4 linked regions of the Homo sapiens genome follow. The protein of the gene in region 4 purifies or fractionates together with the protein of the main gene of each other region. This does not show direct contact. Each region holds a gene or a part of one and is shown on either strand. Other genes may lie near its edges. The genes, in order: RCCD1, UBR1, ZZEF1 and YJU2B.

Region 1 (6,587 bases), on a different chromosome or scaffold from region 4:
TCTAGTTATTCTGTGTATGGAGTGGTGTCTCACTATGGTTTTCATTTACAACTCCCTAATGACTAATGATGTAGAGCATCTTCTCATATGCTCACTTGCTATCCTTCTGTCGTCTTTGTTGACTTTTGTCCATTTTAAAAAATGGCTTGGCCAGGCATGATGGCTCATGCCTATAATCCTAGTACTTTGGGAGGCTAAGGCAAGTGGATCGCTTCAGCCCAGCAGTTTGAGACCAGCCTGGGCAATATGCAACAACCCCATCTCTACTAAAAATACAAAAAACTAGCCAGATGTGGTGGCACGTGCCTGTAGCCCCAGCTACCCGGGAGGATGGCTTAAGCCCAGAAGGTGGAGGCTGTACTCCAGCCTGGACAACAGAGAGACCCTGTCCAAAAAAAAAAAAAAAAACCCACAATGAAATACCACTTCACACCCATTAGGATGGCTGTTAACCAGAAATAGAAAACAAGTGTGGACGCGGATGTGGAGAAATTAGGATTTGTGTGCACTTCCAGTGGGGATGTAAAATGATGCAGCCTCTGTGGGAAACAGGGCAGTTCCTCAAAAAAATTTAGAATTACCACACAATCCAGCAATTCCACTCTGGGTATATATCCAAAAGAACTGAAAGCAGAGACTCAAGAGAGTTGTACACCCATGTTCCCAGCAACATTATTGACTGTAGTGAACAACTCAGATATCCACCAATGCACGGATGAATAAAACGCAGTGTATACATACAACAGAATCTTAGCCTTTAAAAGGCAGGAAGTCTAGATACATAAGCTACATCATGGATGAACTTGGAGGACATGCTGCTAAGTGAGATAAGCCAGTCATAAAAAGACAAATACTATGGGATTTCACTTACATGAGGCACTTACAGTATCATAGGAACAGAAGGTTAGGACTGTGGTTGCCTGGGGCTGGGGAAGGGGAGACTGACGAGTTAAGTGTTTAATGCACAGAGTTTCAGCATAGAATGATGAAAAAGTTCTGGAAATGCATAGGGGTGACGGTTGCACAACAGTGAATGCATATAATGTCACTGAACTATGTACTTAAAATGGTTAAAAACAATTTTTGTTTTTTATTGAACATAAATTTTATGTTCAGTATATTTTACCACAATAAAAAAGACCCCATGGGTGGGAAACATTTGCTAAACCACAGACACACACATGCACAAATAGAATTTAACTATAAAGAAAACTACTGATAAGCTTATTTTATCAAAATAAGTTGATACTTGTAAAGCACTTTGAGCCTTACCTGGCATGGAGTAAGCATCACCTAAGTATTAAAATTGGTAATACCAAGAGAGACTGAAACAAACTACATTGTAGCAGAAGATACTCTGAATACTAACTCTCAAAAGACTTGTATCTGAAATATCCAAAAGAAAAATCACTAAGGAAAATACAGAACATTTTAAAAGGCCAGAAAACTTGAACAGGCACTTGACAACAGAAAAACTCCAAGTGGCCAATAAACATATGAACTCTTCGCCTCAAGCAATCTCCCTGCTTAGCCTCCCAAAGTGCTGGGACTACAGGTGTGAGCCACCATGCCCAGCCATCCAAAACAAATGAAAAGCTACTCAACCTCATCAGTATCCAGGGAAATGCCAATTAAAACCAGTGTGCATCTACCTGACATTTTAGCCACAGTAGACCCCACCCTGCTGGGGGCAACAGTTATCTAGTAAAATTAAAGGTATCTCCTGACTTAGCAATTCAACTCAATGTTCTGCAAAGGAACTTGTGCACATGTGCAGAAGACTGCACAAAGAATTATGTGGAATGACCAAAATCAGAAACAATAAAAATGACCATCAACAAGGCTGTATCACTTGAGGTATTATTCATACAACAGAACACCATATAGCATTAAAAATGAACTCCAGGACCCAACAAGGATGGATTATACAATGCTGAGTGACAAAAACGACACAAAAGCACATACACAGGATTCCATTTATCTAACACTCAAAAGCAAACACAACTATGTCGTATAAGGCTGCATACAAGAATGGTAAAATTCAAACGAAAGCAGGGAAATGACTGACAGAAGACGATGACCTGGAATGTGCCCCAATCTCAGCTGCACATCAAATGTACCTGGGATGAGGTGGGTGGAGCTTTGAATCTACCACTATCCAGGCCACACACCTAGAAGCTCTGGTTTCATTGTTTCATTGATTTCATTGTTTTGATTGATGCTGACCTTAGGCAGCAGAGTTTTCAATGCTCTCCAGGTGTTTCTAAAGTGCAGACAAGTTTAGGACCGTGCTTGAGGGTGAAGGGCAGGACTGTGATGGGGAGGGGCAAATATGGGGCCCTTGGGGTGCAGGCAATGGTTTTCCTTGACCTGAATGGGGGTCTCACAGGTGTTGCATATACATATACGTACACATGTCAGCTCTTCCCTTTCTCCACAGCATACACGTAGGTGTTCCACGGCCCACAGGTGACAGCCTTTACTTGGAGTTGCTTATCTACAAAGTATTCCACACGGCGAGGCCGATCCAAGCTGGTGGTGTCCTCGTGGCCCAGCTGTCCATATTTACCTAAAGTGAAATCAGCCCCTTTGCCATCGTCTCCACTGGGTCTTGCTGCTGCTTTCCCTCCAGGAAGGGGCCCAGACTATCAAATGAAGTGCTGGGATTATGCCCCACTGCTCTGTGAATCCAAGAGACCCAGAGCCAGGCAACCTTGGGGATCCCCAAGAGGCTAGTGGCGACCAGCCACTCCAGGCAAGACGCTCCTCCAGACTTCCCTGCTATCCAAGCTAAGATGTTCAGAGCACACACTTCCATCGAATCTTTTTCTCCACCCAGTGTCACATCCACAAAAAGCTGCTTTGTAAGTGCTGGTTGGATACTCCCTTAAGACAGTCTTTCAGAGAGGTAGGCGGGTGGTACCGATATCCTCTCCATGTCTCCCCTGTCTGGCCTCGGACTGAGCGCGCCTATGTCTGTTCCAACCCCAGGGAGGGAGCAGTCCTGTTCCTCCCAGTGACCTGGCCGAGGCCCCTGCTTCCTCCAGTCTTGTTGGCTTTGTCACCTGCCCTGTACTCCCAGGTCTTTCTTCTCCTTGGTTTCAGGGTCACAAAAACAATCCTTTTACTTACCCCAGCCCCAGGTGTAGAGCTCCCCTGTTCCTGAAAGCAAAAGGACAATCGATAGTTGTCACTACGGTTCTTTGGCAAGGCATCTGTCCAGCCCAGCTTGGCACAGCCCACAGCTAGCATATTACAATCCTCATGAGATCTGCCTGGCATGGAACAACATATTCTCTTAACAACTGGCTGATCACACGTGGCATGGCAGAGGATCCCGAGGGAAAAAGTGGCGGATCTTCCTGTGTGCCATGCTACCGAGCGCCGCAGTCTTCCATGCCAGACTGGACAGTCCCTGCTGTCAGAGGCGGCGGCGGGCAGGGAATGTGTCTGTGGCCGTGCAGGGAGGACAGAAAGCATCAGCCTCCCACCAGAAGGAAGAAACTTCTGGGCCTGACAGGCTGGGGAACTACTGTGAAACAACAAGGGGGTTGGGGCTTATCCACTGAGCAAGGTAGCTGCTCTGTATGAGCCACAGAAGCCTTAAGACAGAAGTTTTTCCGTCGACCACACCCCCTTCCGTAGGCACCAGCTCGAGTGGAGCAGAGTGCCTCCCAGCCCCACTCACGTGTCACCACAGCTGTGTGCCGGGATCCACAGCTGGCCTTGACTGCATCTGAGCCCATGGGGAGATCCAGTAATGCCGGGAAGGGCTGGACAGCTATGAAGGGGGCAGGGGCTCCATCCTCAGCCCCACCCGTTCTCTTCACCTGAGAACCATCTTCATTCAGTTCTGTGGCTTCAGAATGATAATAATGATGTGAACACCAACTGAGCCCTGAGCTAAATCTTATTCATGCAGTCACTTATTGCCACAACAGCTCTGAGGTACACGACTGCCTAGCTCCAAAGCTGGTGCTCCCAACCCCTACATTCTGCAGGCAGGGCTGGCACTGCTGCACAAGTGTGTTGTGCCAAGACCGGCATCAGCCTTGCCAATGCTCCCTCCCATAAGGGGCTCACATGCTCCATCTGAGCAGTGTAGCTCTGAGGCCAGCATACAGCCAGGAGTTAGGAATGACAGCCACATCCTGGGGAGACGGCTGTGGGAGCCGAGATGACCCTCACCTTCCCTTGCGACAGTCTCTCCATCCTCTGCCAGGTTCCTGGTGGGCAGGGCCAGCTGCCCTGATTCATTCCAGCCCCAGATATAAATATCCCCAGTCTCTGAAAGAGATCAAGGGGACACATGAAACAGACTGTGAAGCCCCTGCATCCATCCAAACTCTCCTCCCCATCGCATCCGCTCCTGGGGACAACTAAAGCCTGCCCTGCCCAAGGTAGCACTCCAGGCCAAGGCGCTTCCCCTCGGGCCCCAGGGGCTTGTCTTAGGTTCACATCCCCTCAATGCCTTCAGATCACCCTTTAAGTCCCTTACTGGACCTTCTACTTCCATTCTTATGCTGCCAAATAGCCCCTCATTTCAGAAATGTATCCCTAGAAGTACCGCAGTGGTCTCCCTTTCAAAACCACTGGGCCAGGGCCAGGTGCATTGGTTCATGCCTGTAACCCAGCACTTTGGGAGGCTGAGATGGGTAGATCACTTGAGCTCAAAAGTTCGAGACTAGCCTCAGCAATATGGCAAAATCCCTGTCTCTAAATAAGTAAATAAAACAACCACTGGGCCGGCCTGTGCCCCTTTTTCAACTGCACCCACAGCCGGTCCTGATGAAAGCCACGTGCAGCTCTCCCCTTCCTGGCCTCCCACAACACTGGAGCTTTTTGGTTGGAACAGCTGCCTAATTCTAAAAATTTCTAACAATAGCTGCTTTATGAAGTGCTTAATCCATGCTGATGTTTCACATGCTTTTCAAATATAATCACTTAATTCTCACAATAGCCCTACAGGTGGTTTTATGACAATATCACCATTTACGCAGGATCCCTATTTTATTCACAACTGAGGCACAGAGGGGGTTAAGTACCAGGCCCGAGGTCCCAGGGCCCGAGCAATGATCTGAAACTAGGAAGTCTGGTGGGATGTGTCCGTGCTTCAGCCTCTACACTAAACTTAAGGCCTCAAACTCCTTCTGGACCTTGAGTGCAGGGCGTCCCACTGGGCTGTTTCCAGCCCTCTGGTCTCTCCAGCCCAAGGTTGGGGTTTTTTTTTTTTGTTTTTTTTTTTTTTTTAGACAGACAGAGTCTCACTCTGTCACTCAGACTGGAGTGCAGTGGTGTGATCTTGGCTCACTGCAACCTCCACTCACGCGTGGCTCAAGTGATCCTCCAGCCTCAGCCTCCCGAGTAGCTGGGACCACAGGCACGAGCCGCCACGCCCAGCTCATTTTTATATTTTTTGTACAAAGACGAGGTTTTGCCACGTTGGCGAGGCTCAGCCCAGGGTTTCCTGAGCTTGGCAACCAGCCCAGGCCCATTCCATGAGAATATGGTGTGGAGGAAGGCACTGGTAGCTTTTCTTTTTTTTTTTTTTTTTTTTTTGAGACTGAGTCTCGCTCTGTCGCCCAGGCTGGAGTGCAGTGGCACGATCTCGGCTCACTGCAACCTCTGCTTCTCAGGTTCAAACGATTCTCCTGCCTCAGCCTCCCGAGTAGCCAGGACTACAGGCGCACACCACTGCACCCAGCTAATTTTTGTATTTTTTTTTAGAGACGGGGTTTCACCATGTTGGTCAGGCTGATCTCGAACTCCTGACCTCGTGATCCACTCACCTCGGCCTCCCAAAGTGCTGGGATTACAGGCATGAGCCACTACGCCCGGCCCCCTGGCATTGGTAATTTTTTAAGCTTCCAGGTGATCTACGTAGCAGCCAGAATGAGAGCCCCAGACACAGACAAAGATCATCTGTTCCCAGCCTCACCCTCTCTGCATGGGCTCTAACAGCCTAGGAAGGAGCTACACCTGGATCACCAAGTGAAACTCCTCACTCTGGCCAGCTGTGGCACCACCACAGGGACACACTCATCACCATCCTGGTGCCTGGTGGGCACCCCAGTGTCCACCCTGTGCCACACATCATGGCCCCCTAGGCAACTGCAGCGTTTCTGCGTTTTCCTTGGCTCAGCTGCCCCCTCACACTCCATACTCCCTCGGCAGCACTGTTAAGAGACAGTCCTGGCTGGGAGCAGGTGGGGAGAGGAGGGGAGGGGCAGTGAGACCAGTAACAGAGAAGCTAGGAACAAATGCCAGAGTCCAGGCGTGAGTGGGCCATGGTGCAGGCAGAGGAGGCCGAGGGTGAGAGGCATTTAGGAGTCATAACTGACTGGGCGATGGATGGATGAATTTGGAAGGAGGCCTGGGTAGGCCCCCACCCAAACTGGAAAACGAGGAGGAAGGTTTGCACAAGATCATGAGCTCGTCTGGAGAAGCACTAAGTCACTCACCACTCACACACACAGAATGCCAGCCCCCCGCGGCCACCTCAGCCATGACTAGGCCCTGCAACGCCTCCAACAGCCGTGGCTCCAGCTCTGCCTCCAGGGTCCCATGGCCCAGCTGTCCATGCCTGA
Region 2 (7,845 bases), on a different chromosome or scaffold from region 4:
AAGAGAATTATATTCAAGTGAGTAACAGTAGACTCCATTCTGGACAGGGTCTGTGTCATTCCTGGGCAGCAAGTGGGCAGTTAGGAAAGTGCACTAACTCTACTGGAGTCTTATCAGTAACGTTTACTTACCACAGCATATTTCCATAAGCACTCAGATTAGAATTAGAGTGTGACAACATTAAAAAAAAAAAAAAAAGGCTGCATCAAATGCTTTAAAAAAACTAAGCTCATCAACTATGGTTTATTCAAGAGGAGGCATGTTAACTGAAAATATCTTGAAAGAACATGTAGGCGGTCATAGTAAATCACCTGGCATTAGAGGTCTTAATATTTTGTGTTAGGTCATCTGAGGCAAGGGGTTAAAAGCTTAAGGAAAATTATTTCACAGAGCACAGCATATGCTTAATACCTTTACAGAAATGGATAAAGTGGCAGCAAGGGAACTCCGAGGTAACCCTCAAAGTCAGCATCCAAAGAAAGGATGGGCAAGATACAGGCACACCTCAGAGACATTTCGGGTTCAGTTTAAGACTACCACAATAGAGTGAACATAAAGTGAGTCACACAAATTTTTTTGGTTTCCCAATGCATATGAAAGTTATGTTTACACTACACTATACTAAGAGTGCAATAGTATGAAGTCTTTAAAAATGTACTTAATGTTAAAATACTGCTAAAAAATGCTAATGATCATCTGAGTCTTTAGAAAGTTGTCATCTTTTTGCTGATAGGGGGATCTTCCCTCAATATTAATGGCTGACTGATTAGGTTGGTGATTGCTAAACGTGGGGGTGGCTATGGCAATTTCTCTCTTTTTTTTTTTTTTTCTGAGACAGAGTCTCACTCTATCCCTCAGACTGGAGTGCAGTGGCACGATCTGGGCTCACTGCAATCTCCGCCTGCCGGATTGAAGCAATTCTCCTGCCTCAGTCTCCCGAGTAGCTGGGATTACAGGCGCCTGGCTCATTTTTGTATTTTTGGTAGAGATGGGGTTTCACCATGTTGGTCAGGCTGGTCTCAAACTCCTGACCTTAGGCAATCCGCCCACCTCGGCCTCCCAAAGTGCTGGGATTACAGCCGTGAGCCAACGCGCCCGGCCAGGCAATTTCTTAAAATAAGACAACCATGAAGTCTGCCACATTGATTGACCTTTTCACAAAAGATTTCTCTGTAGCATGTGATAGCATGTTACCAATGGCAGAACTTCTTTCAAAACTGGAGTCAATCCTTGCCAACTCTGCGGCTGCTTTATCAACTATGTTTATGGAATATTCTAAATCATTTGTTCTTATTTAAACAATGTTCACAGCATCTTCACCAAAAGTAGATTCCATCTCAAGAAACCACTTTCTCTGCTCATCCAGAAGAAACAATTCCTCATCCATTAAGTTTTATCATGTGTTTACAGCAATTCAGTCATAACTTCAACCTCCACTTCTAATTCTAGTTCTCTTATTTCTACCACATCTGCAGTTACTTCCTCTACTAAAGTCTTGAACCCCTCAAAGTCATCCAGGAGGGTTGGAATCAACTTCTTCCAAACTCCTGTTCATGTTGATATTTTGACCTCCTCCCACAAACTATGAATGTTCCTAATGGCATCTAGAATGCTGAATCCTTTCCAAAAGTTTTTCAATTGACTTTGCCCACATCTATCAGAGGAATCGTAATTTATGAAAGCTATAGTTTTATGAAATGTGTTTCTTAAATAGTAAGAGTTGAGAGTTGCAATTACTCCTTGATCCATGGGCTACAGAATGGATATTGTGTTAGCAGGCATGAAAATAACATTTATCTCCTTGTATATCTCCATCAGAGCTTTTGGGTGACCAAATGTATTGTCAATAAGCAGTATATTTTGAAAAGAATCTTTTTTTTTTCTCAGCAGTTCTCTACAGTGGACTTAAAATATTCAGTAAATCATGTTATAACAGATGTACTGTCATCCAGGCTTTCTAGTTCCATTTATTCAACATACGCAGAGTAGCATAATTCTTAAGTATTCTTGGATTTTCTGAATGGTAAATGGAAATTGGCTTCAACTTAAAATTACCAGCTGCATTAGCCGCTAGCAAGAGAGTCAGCCTGTCCTTTGAAGCCAGGCATTGACTTCTCTCTAGCTATGAAAGCTCTAGATGGCATCTTCTTCCAACAGAAGGCTGTTTCGTTTACATGGAAAATCTGTTTAGTGTAGCCACCTTCATCAATTATCTTAGCTAGATCTTCTGCATAACTTGCTGCATCTTCTCCATCAATCAGCACTTACTGCTTCACGCTGCACTTTTATGTTGTGGAGATGGTTTCTTTTCTTAAACATCACGAACCAACCTCTGCCAGCTTCCAACTTTTCTTCTGCAGCTTCCTCACTTCTCTCAGCCTTCGGAGAACTGAAGAGAGTGAGGGCCTTGCTCTTTGATTAGGTTTTGCCTTAAGGGAATATTGTGGCTGGTTCAATCTTCTATCCAGAGCACTAAAACTTTTTCCACATCATCAGTAAGGCTGTTTCACTTTCTTATTATTTGTCTGTTCACTAGAGTAGCACTTTTAATTTCCTTCAAGAACTTTTCCTCTGCATTCACAACTTGGCTAACTGCTTGGCACAAGAGGCATAACTCTTGGCCTATGTCAGCTTTCAACAGCCTTCCTCACTAAGCTTCATCATTTCTAGCTTTTGATTTAAAGTGAGAAATGTTGAACTTTCCTTTTCACTAGAATACTTAGAGGCCATTGTAGGGTTAACTGGCTTAATTTTAGTATTGTCCCATCTTAGGGTATAGGGATGCCCAAGGAGACGGAGAGAGATGGATAAGTAGCTGGTCAGTGGGGCAGTCAGAACAAACACAGCTTTTTTTATTATGTTTGCTGTCTTTTATGGATGTGGTTCATGGCACCCCAAAACAATTACAATAGTAACATCAAAGGTCACTGATCACAGATCATCATAACAGATATAATAATGAAAAAGTTTGAAGTATTGTGAGAATTACCAAAATGTGACACAATGACACGAAGTGAGCACACAATGTTGAAAAAATGGCACTGAAAGGCTTCCTTGAGACAGGGTTGCCATAGACTTTCAATTTGTAAAGAACTGATTATCTACAAAGCACAATAATAAAGCTCAATAAAATAAGGTATGCCTGTATTTCACTGGTTCATCTGTATCACTGATTTATAAAAGTATCTATCCAGACACACTCTTTGTGCAGTACTGAGGACAAAAACCTTTTCATTTGCAGGATGTTTGGTATTATAAGAAGTCAGTTTCCAGCACTAGCACATCTACACTAAGTTACTGTTCCTTCCCTAGACTCTTAGTTAGTGGGGCTGAATCAGTCATTTTGACTTAGAGTTTTAGAACTCAATTTCACATCTAATTCTATAGAATCTGGCATTAAAAAATCAAAATTTCCCTAACTCCCCAAAATAGAAATTATGAGATGGTGAAAAAACAAAAGCCATTAGGTCTTGCTAAGATCTGGTGACAAAGTACTTCAGTTAGACTCAAAAGACCTACATTTTCATCAGTTTTCCCACTCAGAGTGTGTCCTTACTACACAAAACTGTGCTCTGGCCTAAAACAATATAGATTCAAATTTCTAAGGAAAATCATCTCCAATTAAAATCACATATAACTCCTCACTTCTATATTGAAGTCAAGAGATTATGTTGTATTTTAAAGATCCCCTATAGCCCAGGCACGGTGGCTCACATCTGTAATCCCAGCACTTTGGGAGGCTGAGGCGGGTGGATCACCTGAGGTCAGGAGTTTGAGACCAGCCCGGCCAACACGGCAAAATCCCGTCTCTACTAAAAATACAAAAATTAGGTGGGCATGGTGGTGTGCACCTGTAATCCCAGCTACTCGGGAGGCTGAGGCAAGAGAATTGCTTGAACCCAGGAGGCAGAGGTTTCAGAGAGCCAAGATTGCACCACTGCACTCCAGCCTGGGTGACGTCTCCAAAAAAACAAAAAAAAAAAGTTCCCCTACAGATATGAGATTATGGGTACATTTTTCTTTGATTTCCATAATGATTATTGCGTAACCATAACAATATTAAACTTTTAAAAAATCCTCCCATTTCAGCAGGAGACAACTTTGGGAAATAACAGAAATATTCTATAACCTGATTTGGTGGTAGTCACACAAGTATATACATTTGTTAAAATTTATCCAAGAAACGCCTTAAATGGGTACATTTTATTGTATGTAAATTATATCTCAATAATGTTAATATCTCTTAACATTCTCAGCTTCTATTACCCCCACTTCCTCTCTACCTCAGTGTCTTCTCATTCATTCATTCATTCATACATTCAATAAAAACTTTGAAGCAATGTGCTAGAAACTAGATACAGCTGTGAACAAGCAACAGTTCAGGCCTTCAAGAACTTCACTGTCTAGAAGGAAAGACACATAGTAAACAGGTAACGTAGAGTACAGTCTGAGACACGCTACATAAAACCATAAAACAGGAGTATAGAAAGGGTGCTATAGGAACACACAAGAGGTGCCTCTTTTTTTTTTTTTTAGACGGAGTCTCACTCTGTCGCCCAGACTGGAGTGCAGTGGTGTGATCTCAGCTCACTGCAAGCTCCGCCTCCCAGGTTCACGCCATTCTCCTGCCTCAGCCTCCTGAGTAGCTGGGACTACAGGCGCCCGCCATCATGCCCGGCTAATTTTTTGTATTTTTAGTTGAGAAGGGGTTTCACCATGTTAGCCAGGACGGTCTCGATCTCCTGACCTCATAATAAACCCACCTCGGCCTCCCAAAGTGCTGGGATTACAGGCATGAGCCACTGCACCAGGCCAAGAGGTGCCTTTAACCTGGCTCTACCATCACAAAAACTTGATGTGCCCCCATGTACTCAAATTCTAAAATGCCCCTTTCTGACCACAAAGTTCAGTCCTCCCACTTATGTCAACCTCATGCCCTTTAACACCTCAATCCCACCAATTCCCTCCAGATTTCCTGTTTTGGCTTTTATTACCTCCCTGTTCAGCCTGGACTCGAAGGTTAGCCACTACCCTAACATGCCGGCTCATTCCCTTTTTTCTATCTACAACCTCCATCCACCAATCACTACTAATCTTACTACAATAAATCATTAATGTTGATCCTCAGTTATTCATTCATTTAAAAATATTTAAGTGTCTTCTGTATCAATCACATACCAAGATACATCAATGTGGCCAGGCATGGTGGCTCATACCTGTAATCCCAGCAGTTTGGGAGGCTGAGGCAGATGGATCATGAGGTCAAGAGATCGAGACCATCCTGGCCAACATGGTGAAACCCCGTCTCTACTAAAAACACAAAAATTAGCTGGGCATGGTGGCATGCCCCTGTAGTCCCAGCTACTCAGGAGGCTGAGGCAGGAGAATCGCTTGAATCCGGGAGGCGGAGGTTGCAGTGAGCCGAGATCGCACCACGCACTCCAGCCTGGCGACAGAGCGAGACTCCGTCTCAAAAAAAAAGATGCATCAATGAACAAGTCACACATGATCCTTCCCTTCATGGAACTTACCTCTCCCTCTGGAGGAAGAAACAGACATTTTGCTAAGTAAATAAAGACAATACAGTAATTACAGATTGTAATAATTGAAATGGGAGAAATAAACAGGTTGCTTTGACAGAGAATAAGAGGAACCCATCTTTTAGACAGAGTGTGTATTAAGAAAAAGCAGAGGAAGAACACTCTAGGAAAAGCAAACAGCAAGCAACAGCACAGACCCTAAAGCAAAATACAGCTTGGGCTTGTACTAACAGGCCAGGATGAGTGAGGAGAATGTAACAGGAAATGAGGTGGAGATGCAGGGGCTGGACCAGGCAAAGTCTTGAAGGCTTGTAATGAGTTTATAAGTATAAGAGAAAGCCACTGAGGATTTAGGTAGGAGACTGACATGATCTCATTTAATCTTTAAAAGATTACTCTGGTTGTTCTGTGCAGAATGGACAGGAAGAGGGCAACAGTGGAAGCAAACAGACCAGTTAGGAAGTCACTGCAGTAGCCAAGACAACAGAGAGTGACTTGGACTACATGGGTGGAGACAGAATTATTTGTCTTCAAGAGCTATGATGGAGGTGCTGTCTACTGAGACAGGGACAACAAAACTCTTGATCTGCCTTTCTCCTTTCCTCTCCTAAAATCTTGTCTTTCCTCTCAATATATGACACAACCAAGGCCAGGTGCGATGGCTCACATCTGTAATCCCAGCAACTGGGGAGGCCGAGGTGGGTGGATCACTTGAGGTCGGGAGTTCGAGACCAGGCTGGCCAATATGGTGAAACCCCACCTCTACTAAAAATACAAAAAAACTGGCTGGGCACGGTGGCTCATGCCTATAATCCCAGCAATTTGGGAGGCTGAGGTGGGCGGCTTGCCTGAGGTCAGGAGTTCAAGACCAACCTGGCCAACATGGTGAAACCCCTCTCTTTACTAAAAATACAAAAATTAACCAGGCGTGGTGGCAGGCACCTGTAATCCCAGCTACTTGGAAGGTTGAGGCAGGAGAATCGCTTGAACCCGGGAGGTAGAGGTTTCAGTGAGCCGAGATCTCGCCACGCACTCCAGCCTTGGCGACAGAGAGAGACCTTGGCTCACAAAAAAAAAAAAAAAAAAAAAAAAAGCCAGGCATGGTGGTGCATGCCTGTAATTCCAGCTACTCGGGAGGCTGAGGCAAGAGAATCACTTGAACTTGGGACAAAGAGGTTGCAATGAGCCGAGATCATACCGCTGGAAACAACACAACCGCTGCCATGAATGCTTAAACCAAAAACTGAGGATGCAGATATCATCTATTCCTTACCTTTTGCCTCATGCCTAATCTATCAGCAAGTCTTTTTGCTTCTTCCATCCTTCTAAAATCTTTCTCACATTCATCCTCTTCACTCTATCTCCAAGGATAACCTTTCCAGTGCAAGCTACCATCAACTATGGCTTGGGTTACAGCAGCAACTTCTTAATTGCTCCCACTGTTTGAAACACCAGACATCCAAGTGAAGATGTCAAGTAGGCAGTTGGATTTATGATTCTGGAGTTCAGAAGTGAGATGACACAGAGATATAAATTTGGGAACTGAATACATACAAATGGTATTTAAAGTCACAGAACTAGATGAAATCCCCTAGGTAGAGGTTATAAACAGGCAATAGAAAAGAGCTGAGTATCATGCCAAGAGGTATCTTCTGAAATTGACTTAAGGAAGAAAATCTAGTCGAGGAAGACAGAAGGCAGAAGTTCTGGCAGACTACCTCACAAGTCTCTTGATTCCCAATTTTTCTCAGTCCTCATTATCATGGACCCAATAAACCACCCTCTCAAAATAATACCCCATGCCATCACACTACTCTCACCTCCTACGTGCTTGCCTATTGTTTCCACGTTCTTACCTCATTCTTCCATTTTCCACCCGTTTCAATCATTCCTGTTCTCTCTTTCTCATCATCTCTGTCTCACTCTCTTTTCCTCTGTGTGTGTGTATATATATGCACACATTTTCCTCCTCAAAGATCTTATCCGGGCTGGGCGTAGTGGCTCACGCCTGTAATCCCACCACTTTGGGAGGCCAAGGCAGATGGATCACTTGAGGTCAGGAGTTCGAGACCAGCCTGGCCATATGGCAAAACCCTGTCTCTACTAAAAATACAAAAATCAGCCAGGTGTGGTGGAACACACCTGTAATTCCAGCTACTTGGGAGGCTGAGGCACAAGAATTGCTTGAACCTGGGAGGTGGAAGTTATAGTGAGCCAAGATGGCACCACTATACCACAGCCTGGGTGATGGAGTAGGACTCTGTCTTAAATAAATTAAATTAAATTAAACCCTGTCTCTACAAAA
Region 3 (7,845 bases), on a different chromosome or scaffold from region 4:
TCTACTATATAATATATTAATTATTTTCTTTGTTTCGGTAGATGTGGGCCAGTTTCTGGCAAGCATGAGAGCGATTTTGGAATCCCTTTTCTCACAGTACAGTGGAAAAACCATAGTAGAAAGATTATGTAACTCAGTGTTTTCAATGGCAGCTCGTCAACTGGTAAGAAAAACTAGCAGCTATTTGTAAAGAACCGGAAGGGGGTTGGGGGTCTGCATCCCCAGGCCCAGCCTAAGGTGGACGCTGAGTGCTTCATCCATCTTCCATTAGGTTATCTTCCTGCTGGACTTCTGCACTTTAGACATCCCACACTGCGTGCTCTTGAGAGAGTTCAGCGTCCTCACAGAACTCCTGAAGAAGCTCTGTAGTGGCCCCGAAGGAGGACTGAGGAAGGTAACTCGAGTCAGCACTTGAGCCGCCCCGTGTTCTCTCTCAGGAGTGATGGGACACACTTAGTGAAGTGGACCACGGACTGCAGATAGGCACAGCTGAGCAGCCTCTAGAAGGCTCCCTTGATTTTATCAGTGGGCTTGCCAACAAGGGTGAATGTCAGTCCAAGTCGATGTGGCCTGGTCAGCATTAGAAAGGAGACGCAGAGGCCGGGCGCAGTGGCTCACGCTTGTAATCCCAGCACTTTGGGAGGCCGAGGCGGGCGGATCACGAGGTCAGGAGATCGAGACCATCCTGGCTAACACGGTGAAACCCCGTCTCTACTAAAAATACAAAAAAAATTAGCCGGGCGTGATGGTGGGCGCCTGTAGTCCCAGCTACTCGGGAGGCTGAGGCAGGAGAATGGCGTGAACCCGGGAGGCGGAGCTTGCAGTGAGCCGAGATTGCGCCACTGCACTCCCGCCTGGGCCACAGAGCGAGACTCCGTCTCAAAAAAAAAAAAGAAAGGAGACGCAGAAAAAGCTGTAGAGATGAATCTCATCATTTTATAGTTGATGAAGTTATATAAAAACCATGTAAGTGAGTGACAAAATTGAAGTCTAGAAGAGAAAATGTATGTTGAAAGGCAAATTACATTTTGTCTTTAGAAGAAATTTCTCCCTTACTTAATTATACATACATAACGTTTAATCACTGTCTTGTGTGAGCTTCTTCTTGTGTGTCTTTTGTGTGCCACAGAGCACAACTCTGTGGCAGTAGAAAAGGCATTTATATTTAACAGGTAAAAAACCAAAGGCCCCCCCCCAACCCCCCGCTCAAAAGAAAAGGGTAGGAGAGGAAGGGAGAGTAGATCCAGATTTGCCAGTGTCCCAGGTAGGAATGTGAGGTCTTTAAACTCCTCATTCAGTACTTTTTCCACTGGGAATTCACACTGGTAATGATTTGTAAGTAGTTCTGTCATAGCGAAAAGGTACAAGCTGGTCATGGAGTTTTTGTGTGTAATAAAAGCACATCTCCTCGGCTGCGTGGTGGACGTGTGTTGATCTGTGTGAAGATGGGAATGTCAGGTTTGTCTTCGAGCCTGCCTGCTGGTTTGTGCAGGGCTGTCAAGGCCATCTGCCTGGAGCACTGATAGAGAAACAGTCTGCTGCATGTGGCTAGGTGTCTAGTGATAGAACCTTTCTTTCCCCTGGCTCATTTGTTATCATAGCTGGATGTTGAGACCTGGCAACAGGAACAGCCTGTGGTGTTACATACGTGGACGAAGGAATCTGCCCACAACTATGAAAATAATTGCCATGAGGTATCCGTCTTTGTTAGCCCAGGGGCAACCTATTTTGAAGTGGAATTCGATGACAGGTGTGAAACTGAAAAAAGGTAAGACTTCTATATTCTTTCACCCCCAAGCGCTAATAGGTCAGCAATGAGAGAAGGAAGCTAATAGAGGTTATGCCTTCACAGGTATGATTATCTGGAATTTACCGACGCTAGAGGTCGGAAAACACGCTATGACACAAAAGTTGGCACTGATAAATGGCCCAAGGTGAGTGATAGTCCCAGAAAGAGGTACCTACTTCTGCACCAATGCTTTTCCTTTTGTCAGCCTTCAGGGGGCAGTAGAGGTAAGGTCTTTGAAGGGAGGCATTTATGTTACACGTTTGTGAAAGGAAGGATTTATATCAGAGTTTGACCAGCTATAGTCTGTCACCTGTTTTGTAAACAAATTTTTTTGGAACACAGCCATGCCTGTTTATCATTTATAGCTGCTTTGGCACTGCAGTGGCAGAGTTGAGTAGTTGCAGCAGACAGCGTTGTCTAGAGTAAATGAAGAGCCTTCATCCTTAGCAAGAAGTGCTGGTGGGTCTAGGAGGATGGCCCAGACCATGTGATGGAAGCCAAGAGTCTGCCTCACAGTTAGAGCTGCTTGAGCTCTTGGGCTGGAGGTTTAGTACTGCCTCAGACTGTTGACCTTCTCTCCATGGTCAGTGGTCTTGGCAGGAGCAGAGGCATGGAAATGTGACCACTGGCTGAGTCGGTAGTGGACAGATGGTCACCCCAGGTGTAGAAAGCTGAGCAGCAGTATTCTGCCAACTCTCCTTCTTCATGGGGTGTGGCTGTGAATGGTCTGTTTCCGTCACCCCTTTGTACATTTCTCCGTTAGTCATTTTGGACATGTGGAAATAGAGATCAATTTTAAACTGAGATGTTTCTCGTCATGAAGAGCATGCTGATTTCTGAAGCACTCCTCCTCTAATCTGTCTGACCACATGATTTCTGTTTGTCTCTAGAAAGTGACCTTCAAGGCCGGTCCTCGGTTGCAGTTCCTCTTTCACTCTGACAGCAGTCACAACGAATGGGGCTACAAATTCACTGTCACTGCCTGTGGGCTGCCCGATGTTGCCGTGTCTTGGGGGCTGGATTTACAGCTCCTCGTCTCCCGGCTGATGGGACGCCTGGCTTCCCAGTGCATGGCGCTCAAGTCTGTGCGCCGTAAGTGCACATCCCTGTGCTTTCCCTTCTTACAACCACGGTGAAGTGCAAGATGCGCGCTTGCCCTCTTGTAGGTCGTTTCCACGTAATGGCAGGGGGTTAATAATACGCCTTTTCAGTTTCCTTTAAACCGAAAGAATAAAGTGTCCACTCAATACCATTGTCACGAAGCTTTTTGCCTTAGACTTTGGAACATAGCAGGAAGGCTGCCATGGGTTCTCTGTCTATGGAGGATAACAGCTTTTTTTTTTGGCAACATTGTCATTTTTTTGCAAGTAGGTGTAGGTATAGTCCAACCAAAAGGCAGGAGTATAGAATAAGTTGATTGCATATCCTTTAAATATGTGAATATTTATGTAAATATATGTAGATATGTGACTATGGATTTTGTTTTAAAGTGATTCATTCAGGGCTGAGCAAGGTGGCTCATGCTGGTAATCCCAGCACTTTAGGAGGCCAAGGTGGGAGGATTTCTTGATCCCAGGAGTTTGAAACCAGCCTGGGCAGCATAGTGAGATCCCTATCTTTACCAAAAAAAATGTAAAAATTAGCCAGGTGTGGTGGCATATGCCTTTTGTCTCAGCTACTTGGGAGGCTGAGGCAGGAGGATCACTTGAGCCCAGGAGTTAGAGGCTGCATGCAGTGAGCTGTGATCATACTGCTGCACTCCAGTCTGGGTAACAGAGAGAGACTCTTGTCTCTTAAAACAAAAGGAAAAAGATGTGTTCAGTATAATTGTTTATTTAATTCTTCCAGGGAACAAGAATTACAGAATAAAACTTTCTACTGTATTTTATTTCTTGATCATTTCTTGAGTTTTTCCAGTTTTAGAAGTAAAATATAGAAAAATTACATAGTGGAAAAAAACAAAGGAAAATAGAATCATCCTTAATCCTAACACTCAGAAGTAACTGATTTTTTTAATATTTCTCCAAGAAAGAAAGAAATAGCTATTAGCATTTTTATTTCCACCTATTCTTTTCTCTTTGCCTATTCTAAACACATCTATGCTGGATATTTATTATTTGCTACAGAATTAAGTTTACAAATTGTGAATGTTTTTCCATAATTAAATGTTCCTGAATGGCCTCGTGTTATATGCCAGAAATGGTTCATATCCTATTTTCAGCTTACTATAAACAGATTAGTCATTTCCAAGGTACCTTGTAACTGAAGTTGTTCCACAGAGCAGCAGTATTTCAGGACTTGGTGGTTTAGCTTAATCTGTGGTATGTGTTTACAAAGTATCACAATTACATTCTGGTATGTGGGTAAACTTTCTCTAAGTTTTAATAGTATCCATGGTTTTTTTTAACCTTTTCTTTCTCATTTCAAAGATTCTCAATATATTAAGGCAAAAATAGAACTGTCATATGTCTTCTTCTCTTTCTAGAGTTAGGAAGTAACATGGTAGTACCTCAGGCAAAAATGGCATTAGTCCTAAGCTCCCCACTGTGGAAACCTGTCTTCAGGCATCAGGTTTGTCCAGAGTTGGAATTAGAAGCAAGCTGGCCCACTCACCCACACCGGAATAGTAAGGAGGTATTTACTCTTCCGTTTTCTTTCTATTTAGACTGGAAACTGCCTGCAAGTATTTATTACTTTAAGTTATAAACACTTGTGTTTCTATCTTACTACCCGTATTAAGCAGTTAGCTCCTTGAGGCCAGAAACTATACCTTGTTAACTTGTTAACGCCACCGTGTCCCACAGGGGCCAGTGCGCAATAGGTGTTCAGAAATACTGAATGCGTGACTTGGGTGAAATGTAGGAGGTGCTCAGTAAATCTCTGTTGATGGAGTTATCAGGCAAACAATTGAGTGTACTTCTAGTGCCTACTGAGTCAAGCTTTAGAGCAATGATTTGTGCTATACCTTTTGTTCTCCTTAGAATTACAGCACATGATTTAGGTGTATAAGATTTTAAAAACTAAAAAGTTTGCCCTGTCTTTATTTTTCACCTCTCCTTCCCTCTATTTCTGTATTCTACTTTTCTTCCTTCCCCTCCCTGCCCTGCCCCACGTTATTCAGTAGTTAATTGCCAAATCCAGTGGCTCTTCCTCAGCTTCTGTTCTCCTTGCCTCTGTTAAATTTGGCTCCTTCAGACCCTCTCTTCTTTGGATCCATGCTAGTCCGCTGTCTTCTCTTACATCTGACTGCCCACTTGCCTCCTTCATTGACTTTTCATATTCCTCCTTCCCTAAAGGGTAGGCTTTATTCAGGCTTTCTTCCCTTCCCCACAGCCCACCAAGACTTCATCCTCTCCACTTTCTTCTCCTGTCAAACATTGTGGCCCTAATTCCTAATATCAGTCTCCAGGTCTGGTTTTCTCCCCGCTCCAAGTACCTGTTTCCATCTTCCTGTGAGGCATTTCCATTTAAATGTCCTGACTCCCCTTAACTCAGAAGTGTAAAACCAAAGACCGGTCACTTCTGTGGTGGTCAGTGTTCCCCAGGCCTGAAGCCACTGCTCCCTAGCATCCCCTGTCCTCACCTGTCTCCCCATTCCTGTCCAGTCAGCTTGCAGGTCCTGTGGATTCTTCCTCATGATGTTCATCTCTGTCCTTTCCTCTGTCTGCATCTTTATCCGGGCCCTCATTTGCACCTGCCTTATGACATTCGTACCTACCAAGTTTTTTTTATAATCACTGCATTATCTTGTCATTCCACTGCCAAGCACCATTAATGGCTCCCCATTGCCCACAGGGTGAAGTCTAACTCCTCAATGTGACAGTCAAGGCTCTCTGCAGTCTCCTTTCACCTTACCTATCTGACTCTAGTTCCCATCACTCCCCAGCTGAGACTTCAGGCCAGGTCAGTCTCCCCACTGACTCGTAACCTCTGCTAATGGTTATGTTCCTCAGAGCCAAATCTGCCAATCCTTCAGGGTCCAGGCCAAAGCCCATATCCTCCAGGAGGCTTTTCTTAATTACTTTAACCTACCAGGATCTCTCTCCTTTGAATTCTCAGCACTGGGTATCCCTTCTAGGCATTTGGCACTTGATAATCTTTTGCTTTACGGGAATGCTAGTTCTAATGCTTTTAATGTTTTATTTATGTTTATCTTTTTTTAACTCATATCTCTGTCTGGTCTTCCTAAAATAGATTTAAACTTCCGGAGAGTGTTCACTGTGTTTTATACTTCTGCTTTGGCCTAATAGTTTGCTCAATAAATTTTATTTTTTGAATGAATGTGTTAAATGTGATGGGTTTATTTTTTGTTTCCAGGTTAAGAACATTCCTGACGACCCCTGCCGCCATTTTCTTCTTGATTTTGCCCAGTCAGAGCCTGCTCAGAACTTCTGTGGGCCATATTCAGAACTTTTCAAAGGATTCATACAGGCATGTAGAAAACAGGCCCCAAAGACAGATATAGTTGCTGGTTCCACTATTGATCAAGCTGTGAACGCCACCTTTGCTGCTCTGGTGTATCGCACTCCAGATTTATATGAGAAGCTGCAAAAATATGGTAACTTTATTACAGGGAATATTTTTGATCTGAAGGCTAATTGCTAAGTTTTAAGAAAGCCTATCTTAAGTGAACATTTAAAATATTTTAAAATATAAACACATTTCTATAACTGTAAACATCATCTTGTTGGTTCTACTTTGCCTATTAAAAGATTCATGGCCACTTTATGGTTAGCAGATTATAATGTGTGGCACCTAACCTTGAGTTGCAAAATTAGCAGGTAAATTATCTTTATCCAGAATTCTCATGGAAAACTGCTGAGAAATTTAATGGAAAGAAACCTTAACTTGGGTCCTGGTCCCAGTGCAAAAACTCAAAAGTTGTGCAGCTTCAGGTTAATCAGACGACCTTTCTGCACCTCAGTTTCTTTATCTGTAAAATTGGTTTAAGGGTGATTCGCTCTAACATTCTAAGAAATTCCAATTAAAACCACAGATGTTTAAGTTCTTGAATGTAGTAATAACCAAGGAGGAAGCTGTAGGTATTAACTATTACCTTTAGCTAGCTTGCAGCGCCTTCGTAGCATCACCCCACTAGGCTTCCTTTGCTGATAACCTTCTCCTCACCATCTCTTTTCCTCATGTCTCTTAGGGATGCCATCTCTGTATTTACCCTGCTTCCCTGCCGCCTAGCAGGACCCACACGGAGGGAGAGTCTCTCTCTACCTTCATACTAATTCAGGGGAAAAGTGTTTCAAGCCCTACCTAGAGATAAGGCATGGGCTTCCTAACCGCCTGGCAGGGTATGTCTTCTCCACGCAGCGCAGGCGGGAGAAGCAAAAACAGAGCTTCCTTCCACTAGAGTGGGTAATTGACTGTTGCTCATTTTGTTTTGTTTTGTTTTACTTTTTGAGACGGAGTCTCACTCTGTCACCCAGCCTGGAGTGCAGTGGCGCGATCTTGACTCACCACAACCTCCACCTCCCGGGTTCAAGCGATTCTCCTTCCTCAGCCCCCCGAGTAGCTGGGATTACAGGCACCCATCAACACGCCCGGCTAATGTTTGTATTTTTAGTAGAGACGGGGTTTCGCCCTGTTGGCCAGGCTGGTCTTGAACTCCTGACCTCAGGTGATCTGCCTGCCTCAGCCTCCCAAAGTGCTGGGATTACAGACGTGAGTACCGCGCCCAGCCTCGTTTTGTTATTATTGATATTTTTATTCCTACCACCTTTATTGCTCATTTCTTTGGATCTCACATTGCAGAATTTATTTTCTGATTGTTAAAACATCTTGATTACATCCCCAAATCTTAATATCTCCTTTAAAAAGCTGCTCAAATAAACAAAACTGTGTTGAGACATGAGTGATTTATGGAAACAAATGTCATATGGAAGAGTTTTTCTCTGCTGAGGAATCGAGGGGGTGATGTAACCTGTATGGTTTTGGCGGGGGGAATGTCAATATGTATTTTTGTAATCAAATTATAGTAAGAAAGCTGGATAATCTTTTTACTTGAAGGAATTTTCAGTAGAGGGATAAAAGCCTGTGGGTTAAAA
Region 4 (7,845 bases):
TTCATTCATTTGTTCATTCATTTGTCCACTAGTTCATTTATTCAACAAACCCGCCCAAGACAGGCTGCTCTGTGGCAGGCTCAGTGCCAGCTGCTGGGGAAATTGCTGAGTAGTGGAAAAGCCAACTTGCTCATGGAAAGGCTGACGTCCCAGCAGGGCCCACCTTGATAGCAAGGGCACAAGCAACCAGTGTCAAGTCTCACTTTAGAAAAGGTGTCTCTGAGGGGTGCTGTTTGAGCAGAAACCCCGGGTGAGGGAGGAGCCTTGGAGCTACCTGGGGAAGAGCATTCCAGGTGGAAGCACAGAGGTGGGTGTGTCCCTGGGGTGTGTGAGGGACAACGAGGAGGCCAGGGAGGGGGACAGCAGGAGGAGGTTAGGGTGAAGAAAGGACAGGCAGAGTGTGTGGTGCCTTGTGAGCCAGGGGGAGGACTTGGGCTTTTACTGAGGAAGGTGGGAGCCATGGAGGGTTGCGGGGGTGGGGTGTGCCCTGATTCACCAACCAGGGCGATTTCCAGGAGTCCTGCAGGGAATGGGTTCCCCCCGCAACTCAGGCTCTTTGTAGCCCCCTCGCCCTGTGGCCACCCCACCTGTTCCCAAGATGCCACCAAGCCGCCCTTACCTGTAGATCGGGGTTGTGTAGTAATTGCCCACCTTCTTCTTTTCTGCATTGTAACGAACACCTGGAAGGGGGTCAGGCGGGGGTGGTAATTTCATTGCCATCTGAATTTTGCAGATGGGTAAAATGAGGTACAAAGAGGCTCACTGTCACTTGCTGAGGGTTCCCCAACTAGGAGGAGTTAGAGACGGGATTGGAAGCCAGAGCCTGGCTTCCTAATCCCTCTGCAAAGGGGCTTCCATGGCCAGCCAGTCACTCGGGTGCCCGTCTCCTCCCTCATTCCTGATCAGGACCCTCCCACCCCCACCCCGGCGGCATCCAGCAGTTAGGGGGTCTGATGTTTGCAGGACTGAATGGAGGGTGGGCAGAGGCTCACCCATGCCGATGTGGTTCTTGCAGCCATCGCACCAGATGTTATATGGCATTTCGAATCTGCAAAGACAGACAGCATCTTACTTGCACTTGTCCACTTGGACACTCCCTGGGTCTCCACACCTGCGACTCTGGCCGCGGTTGTGATTTGAGGGGTGGGGTATTAGACTGCCCTGTTAACGGGAGTTGCTGCACTCACATTACACAGGAAATGGATATATGGAAGAAAAAGAATCACAACCATTGTAACTGAGCAGGAACTTCCTGCCTGCTAGAAAGCAGACTGACCAGGTCCAGGGACAGCCGCCTTTGGGTGCTGCTGCGACTTTTTTTTTTTGAGACAGAGTCTTGCTCTGTTCCCCATGCTAGAGTGCAGTGGTGCGATCCTGGCTCACTGCAACCTCTGCCTCCTGGGTTCAAGCAATTCTTATGCCTCAGCCTCCCAAGTAGCTGGGATTATAGGTGTGCGCCACCAATTCCGGCGAATTTTTTTTTTTTTTTTGAGATGGAGTCTCGCTCTGTTGCCAGGCTGCAGTACAGTGGCATGGTCTTGGCTCACTGCAACCTCCAGCTCCCTAGTTCAAGTGATTCTCCTGCCTCAGCCTCCCGAGGAGCTGGGATTACAGGTGTGAGCCACCGCACCCAGCCTAATTTTTTCTATTTTCAGTAGAGACAGGGTTTCACTGTGTTGGCCAGGCTGCTCTCGAACTCTTGGTCTCAAGTGATCCACCTGCCTCACCCTCCCAAAGTGCTGGGTTTACAGGCGTGACCCACTGTGCCCAACTACGATCACTGTCTTTTTTGAGAGTCCTATGTGATCAAGTCCAGGCTGGCCTGCTACAGGTTGAGATACAACACGGAGCAGAGCCCAGCTGTACAGGTCAAGTCCCTGCTAAACCAGCCAGTCCCCAGCCAGCCAACTCTGAAACACATGGGAGCCCAGCCCAGATCAGGCCAGCCTAGCCCAGCCCAGCCAAGCTCTTCCAAGCCCAGCAGAGATATTTTGCTGAGCTGCAGACATGTGAGCAATAATAAATGCTTATTGTTTTGTCACACGGCAATAACTGACTGATACGGTGACTTTCTGCTTTATGGAATGAAGACCCTGCAGCACTGGGCCAATGAGGGCACTGAACTCTCCTTGAGACTGAAGGAATGGGGCAGGACGGTGGGGTCCTCAGGTGATGCTGGGCCTTACCGGATGATGAGGATGCCCTGTGACAGCTTCCGAGCCCGCTCCCGAAGCGGGTGGCTGTTGTGGTATCGGTTGAGAGAGCCATGCTGTGTGGAGAGGATGAGGAGCGGATTAGTGCTGCTGAGCTGGAGGAGCTCACAATTTTCTGCCACCCCCACTGCTTTGGGACAAGTGTCTCACAGGTGGGAGAGGCCTTGATTCTTATGTCCTGCAGGACGGGTGTTCATAGCAATAGGGGGCATCCAGGTCTTACTGGAACATGTAGGCTTGGAACCAGGAACGTGAGTTTGAATAGTCCCTCTCTTATTTATTTATTTATTTTTTGAGATGGAGTTTTGCTCTTGTTGCCCAGGCTGGAGTGCAATGGCATGACCTTGGCTCACTGCAACCTCTGCCTCCCGGGTTCAAGTGATTCTCCTGCCTCAGGCTCCTAAGTAGCTGGGATTACAGGCGCCTGCCACCACGCCCGGCTATTTTTTTTGTATTTGTAGTAAAGACGGGGTTTCACCATGTCACCCAGGCTGGTCTCCAACTCCTGACCTCAGGTGATCCACTTGCCTCGGCCTCCCAAAGTGCTGGGATTCCGGGTGTGAGCTACTGCGCCCAGCCCTGTTCCCATTTATGAGCTGAAAGAGCCAGGGGACCCTGGGCGAGTGACCTCACGTTTTGCCTTCCCGAGCCTCTGTTTCCCTTGTCTGTCAACTACGTATAATGGTCATTATTACTTCCAGGTTTTATGGGGAAGATGAGGTGAGGTGACAAGACTGGCAAACATTCGCTGGGGACTTCATGTGCATCACCTTATTTTTTTTTTTTTTTTTTTGAGACAGAGTCTCGCTCTGTCACTAGGCTGGAGTGCAGTGGCGTGATCTCGGCTCACTGCAACCTCCGCCTTCCGGGTTCAAGCGATTCTCCTGTCTCAGTCTCCCAAGTAGCTGGGACTACAGGTGTGGGCCACTACGCCCAGCTAATTTTTGTATTTTTAGTAGAGATCAAGTTTCACCATGTTGGCCAGGATGGTCTTAAACTCTCGACCTGGTGATCCACCTGCCTTGGCCTCCCAAAGTGCTGGGATTAGAGGCGTGAGCCATGGCGCCGGCTTTTTTTTTTTTTTTTTTTGAGGCAGGGTCTGGCTCTGTAGCCCAGGCTGGGGTGCAGTGGTATGATTATGACTCACTGCAGTCTCCACCTCCTGGGCTCAAGCAATCCTCCCACCTCAGCCTCCTGAGTAGCTAGGATTTATCCCTCAATGATTCTGTGAGGTCAGCTCATTTTATTTCCCCCTTCTGACGTATGGAGAAACTTTGGCATAGAGAGGCTAAATCCTATACTCAGGACGAGGCAGCTGGGACACTTGGGCCCTTACTGAGCACCTACTGTGTGGGGACACAGCCACAATAAGATAGATGAACATCTCTGCCTTCAGGGAGAGAATGTTCTAGCGGGGGAGATGGACAAGACGCAAATAAATGAATAAGTGAGGGAGTTATAAGGGCTATGAGATTATATAAAGTGCTCAGCAATGCAACAGAGAACGAGACAGTGGTCAGGGAGGACCTCTGTGAGAAAAGCACTTAAGGAAGTGAGAGTATGGTGAAATGGAGGAAGAGATTCCAGGCAGAGGGGACAACCAGGACGCCACAGGTGCTGGAGCTGGGGAAGCCATGGGATCTGACCCTTCATCTGTGCGCTCTGCCTTATCCTGGGCCCCTGCTGTAAACACACTATACTCTAGTATAGTGTGGACATGGAGTTACAGGTCCCTGAGGAGAGCCACAGTTATCACCCAAAAGTGAAGACAGCCTCGAGACTCAGGTGACATGCAGAAGACAAAAAGACCTTGGGGGCCACCCATCCTTCCGCAGCAGTGGCTCTAACCCCAAGAGGGGATGACGTGGGTCTTTTTGCTACTGTGGACCTGGAGCGGAGAGCCTGCTTACCTTCTCAGGGTTGAAGTCTGGAGGATAGTACTTGTTGACCCCTTTCCTTTCACCCTGCAAAGCAGAACAGAGACATGACTCAGAGAGAGGCTGATATGGTTTGGCTGTGTCCCTACCCAAATCTCATTCAAAAAAATTTTTTCTGATTTTTTATTTTACTATTAATTTTTAGAGATGGAGTCTTGCTCTGTCACCCATGCTGGAGTGCAGTGGTGCGATCTTGACTCACTGTAACCTCCGTTTCCCGAGTTCAGGCGATTCTCCTGCCTCAGCCTCCTGAGTAGCTAGGATTACAGGCATGCACCACCACGCCCAGCTAATTTTTTGTATTTTTAGTAGAGATGGGGTTTCACCATGTTGGCCAGGCTGGTCTTGAACTCCTGACATCAAGTGATGCACCCACCTCAGCCTCCCAAAGTGCTGGGATTACAGGCGAAATCTCATCTTGAATTGTAGTTCCCATAATCCCCACGTGTCATGGGAGGGACCTGGTGGGAGGTAACTGAATCGAATCATGGGGGCGAATCATGCTGTTCTCATGACAGCGAATGAGTTCTCGAGAGACCTCATGGTTTTACAAGGAGCTTTTCCTCTTGCTCATTCTTGCTGCTGCCACGTGAAGAAGGATGTGTTTGCTTCCCCTTCTGCCATGATTGTTAAGTTTCCTGAGGCCTCCCCAGCCATGCTGAACTGTGAGTCAATTAAACCTCTTTCCTTTATAAATTACCCAGGCTTGAGTATGTCTTTTTTTTTTTTTTTTTTTTTTTTGAGACAGAGTTTCACTCTTGTTGCCCAGGCTGGAGTGCAATGGTGCGATCTCATCTCACTGCAACCTCCGCCTCCCGGATTCAAGCAATTCTCCTGCCTCAGCCTCCCGAGTAGCTGGGATTACAGGCATGTGCCACTACGCCCAGCTAATTTTTTTGTATTTTTAGTACAGACAAAGTTTCACCATATTGGCCAGGCTGGTCTTGAACTCCTGACCTTGTGACCCACCTACCTCGACCTCCCAAAGTGCTGGGATTACAGGCGTGAGCCACCGCGCCCAGCCCTTGGGTATGTCTTTATGAGCAGCGTGAGACTGGACTAATACACAGGCTCCCTCCAGGAAACCTACTTGTGCAGCCTCAGGGGGCAGGACCTGGATAAGGGGGACTTGGGGACATTTTAGAGGACAGTGCTGGGCTCAGTGTCTGATTGGGGAAGGGCTACTTGGGCAAAAAACCCATTGTCATTGCTTTGGAAAATTCCATGAGGTTCAGATGCTCCTATGGTGGCTTTCACACTCTTTTGGAGACTGTGATTGACGGTAAGAAGTATTTAACATTGCCACTGGGCAGATACACATGTAGTACCGTTGAACACAGGTCTCAAGAAAGAACACTGAGCCTGGCTGAAGAGTCGCTCTTGTTTTCTTCTTTTTTTTTTTTGAGACAGAGTCTTGCTCTGTCACGCAGGCTTGGGTGCAGTGGTGCAATCTTGGCTCACTGCAACCTCTGCCTCCTGAGTTCAAGCAATCCTCGTGCCTTAGCCTCCTGAGTAGCAGGGACTACAGGAATGTGCTACCACATCCAACTAATTTTTGTATTTTTTTTTTTGAGATGGAGTTTCGCTTTCGTTGCCCAGGCTGGAGTGTGGTGGCATGTTCTCAGCCCACTGCAACCTCCACCTCCCGGGTTCAAGCGATTCTCCTGCCTCACCCTCCAGAGTGGCTGGGACTACAGGCTCCCGCCAACACGCCTGGCTAATTTTTGTATTTTTAGTAGAGACGGGGTTTCACCACGTTGGCCAGGGTAGTCTCAAACTCCTGACCTCAGGTGATCCACCCAGCTCAACCTCGCAAAGTGCTGGGATTACAGGCGTGAGCCACCGCGCCCAGCCTAATTTTTGTATTTTTAGTAGAGACAGGGTTTCGCCATGTTGGCCAGGCTGGTCTCAAACTCCTAATCTTAAATGATTTGCCTGCCTTGGCCTCCCAAACTGCTGGTATTACAGGCGTGAGCCACTGTGCCTGGCCTTGCAATGGTTAATTTTATGTTATATGAATTTCACCTTGTTAAAAAAAAATGAAAGAAAGAAAGAGAAAGGAAGGGGTAGGGGAGGGGGAGGGGAAAGGGGGAAGGGGAAATTTAGGTTGAGTGTAGTGGATCACTTGAGGTCAGGAGTTTCAGACCAGCCTGACCAACATGGCAAAACCCCGTCTCTACTAAAAATACAAAAATTAGTGGGACGTGCTTGCTTGAACCCAGAAGGCGGAGGTTGCAGTGAGCCGAGAGCGTGCCACTGCACTCCAGCCTAGGCAACAAAGTGAGACTGTCTCAAAAACAAAAGAAAATGAAACAAAAAAACATTTAAAAAGTGCCCATGGGTGATGTTAGCGCAAAGCCACATTTCAGACCCACTGCACCAAAAGATGATGACCCGGAGATTGAAATCATCATCTTAGAGCTCTGGGAGGGGAGGAGGGGCTGCTTCCAGGGTCCTACAAAGACTGGGAGAGAAACCCAGGGCACACGAGGCTGTCTACTCACCATCTTGGGAGCTGCCTACTGGTCCTCAGCCTCGGGGCGGACGATCAGAAACTGGCCTTGTGAACACACTGCACTGTCCTGACCTCTTGTGGAGCCTGGCAGAGGGTCCACAGGCTTCCCTGCGAAGATGTCGTGGGCCGTGTGGTGGTGCCAGCTCAGACAAGACTCCCGCCAGGCATAGGAGGCATCCAAAAAGCGGCGTGTCTGTTTAGAAAGAGAGAGTCCCGTCCACTCTACAGCCAATATACGCATCACATCTGACACTTTCATCCCTCTGTGGCCCCCACCGGGTCCAGCACCCATCATCACTCACGTGGGCCAGCACGGTCTTCTCTCTCCCGACTCTGCCCTTGACACTTGCTCACCCCACAGCTGCCCAGGGGATCTTTTTGTTTTTTGAGATGGAGTCTCGCTCTGTCACCAGGCTGGAGTGCAGTGGCGCGATCTCTGCTCACTGCAACCTCCACCTCCTGGGTTCAAGTGATTCTCCTGCCTCAGTCTCCCGAGTAGCTGGGACTACAAGCGTGCGCCACCACACCCAGCTAATTTTGTATTTTTAATAGAGACAGGGTTTCACCATGTTGCCCAGGATGGTCTTGATCTCTTTACCTCATGATCCACCCGCCCCAACCTCCCAAAGTGCTGGCATTACAGGTGTGAGCCACCATGCCCAGCTGGGATCTTTTAATATGAACAAACGTGTCACTCTCCTGCTTAAACCCCTCCCATGATTCATATGGTTTTTAGAATCAAGTCAAACCCCTTCCCACGGCCTGTGGGGCCCCTGCCTGCCTCTCCAAGCCTAACTCTTACCCCTCTATCTCTCGTTCACTCTGTTCCAGCCACACTGGCTTCCTGGCTGTCTTCAAAGGCCAAGTGCAGCTGGCCTGCACCTGCTGTTCCTCAGGTTTGCAAGCTCTTTGTTACAGGCTTTTTTTTTTTTTTTTTTTTTTTGAGACGGAGTCTCACTCTATCACCCAGGCTGGAGTGGGGTGGCATGATCTTGGCTCACTATCTCTGCCTCCTGGGTTTAAGTGATGTCATGCCTCAGTCTCCTGAGTAGCTGGGATTACAGGTACCCGCCACCAAGCCTGGCTAATTTTTTTGTATTTTTAGTAGAGACAGGGTTTCACTGTGTTGACCAGGCCAGTCTGGAACTCCTGGCCTGAGGTGATCCACACACCTAGGGCC

The links.
Region 1: the proteins of YJU2B (region 4) and RCCD1 purify together in Homo sapiens (affinity purification with mass spectrometry; 2 studies listed by BioGRID and IntAct, with this or other methods). This does not show direct contact.
Region 2: the proteins of YJU2B (region 4) and UBR1 purify together in Homo sapiens (affinity purification with mass spectrometry; 3 studies listed by BioGRID and IntAct, with this or other methods). This does not show direct contact.
Region 3: the proteins of YJU2B (region 4) and ZZEF1 purify together in Homo sapiens (affinity purification with mass spectrometry; 3 studies listed by BioGRID and IntAct, with this or other methods). This does not show direct contact.

What each region holds. Positions count from the first base shown.
Region 1 is NC_000015.10:90,957,600-90,964,186, reverse strand, and holds the end of RCCD1 (RCC1 domain-containing protein 1), read right to left. Parts: intron 6,584-6,587; coding exon 6,462-6,583; intron 4,288-6,461; coding exon 4,189-4,287; intron 3,860-4,188; coding exon 3,689-3,859; intron 3,163-3,688; coding exon 3,133-3,162; intron 2,570-3,132; coding exon 2,418-2,569; 3' UTR 1,062-2,417; downstream 1-1,061. UniProt on the Homo sapiens protein: Plays a role in transcriptional repression of satellite repeats, possibly by regulating H3K36 methylation levels in centromeric regions together with KDM8.
Region 2 is NC_000015.10:43,095,361-43,103,205, forward strand, and holds part of UBR1 (E3 ubiquitin-protein ligase UBR1), read right to left. Parts: intron 1-7,845. UniProt on the Homo sapiens protein: E3 ubiquitin-protein ligase which is a component of the N-end rule pathway. Recognizes and binds proteins bearing specific N-terminal residues that are destabilizing according to the N-end rule, leading to their ubiquitination and subsequent degradation.
Region 3 is NC_000017.11:4,069,186-4,077,030, reverse strand, and holds part of ZZEF1 (zinc finger ZZ-type and EF-hand domain-containing protein 1), read left to right. Parts: intron 1-41; coding exon 42-163; intron 164-271; coding exon 272-394; intron 395-1,601; coding exon 1,602-1,768; intron 1,769-1,852; coding exon 1,853-1,934; intron 1,935-2,679; coding exon 2,680-2,881; intron 2,882-4,274; coding exon 4,275-4,423; intron 4,424-6,106; coding exon 6,107-6,347; intron 6,348-7,845. UniProt on the Homo sapiens protein: Histone H3 reader which may act as a transcriptional coactivator for KLF6 and KLF9 transcription factors.
Region 4 is NC_000019.10:13,750,621-13,758,465, reverse strand, and holds part of YJU2B (probable splicing factor YJU2B), read right to left. Parts: intron 6,859-7,845; 5' UTR 6,658-6,858; coding exon 6,655-6,657; intron 4,178-6,654; coding exon 4,124-4,177; intron 2,270-4,123; coding exon 2,187-2,269; intron 1,049-2,186; coding exon 993-1,048; intron 681-992; coding exon 620-680; intron 1-619. UniProt on the Homo sapiens protein: May be involved in mRNA splicing.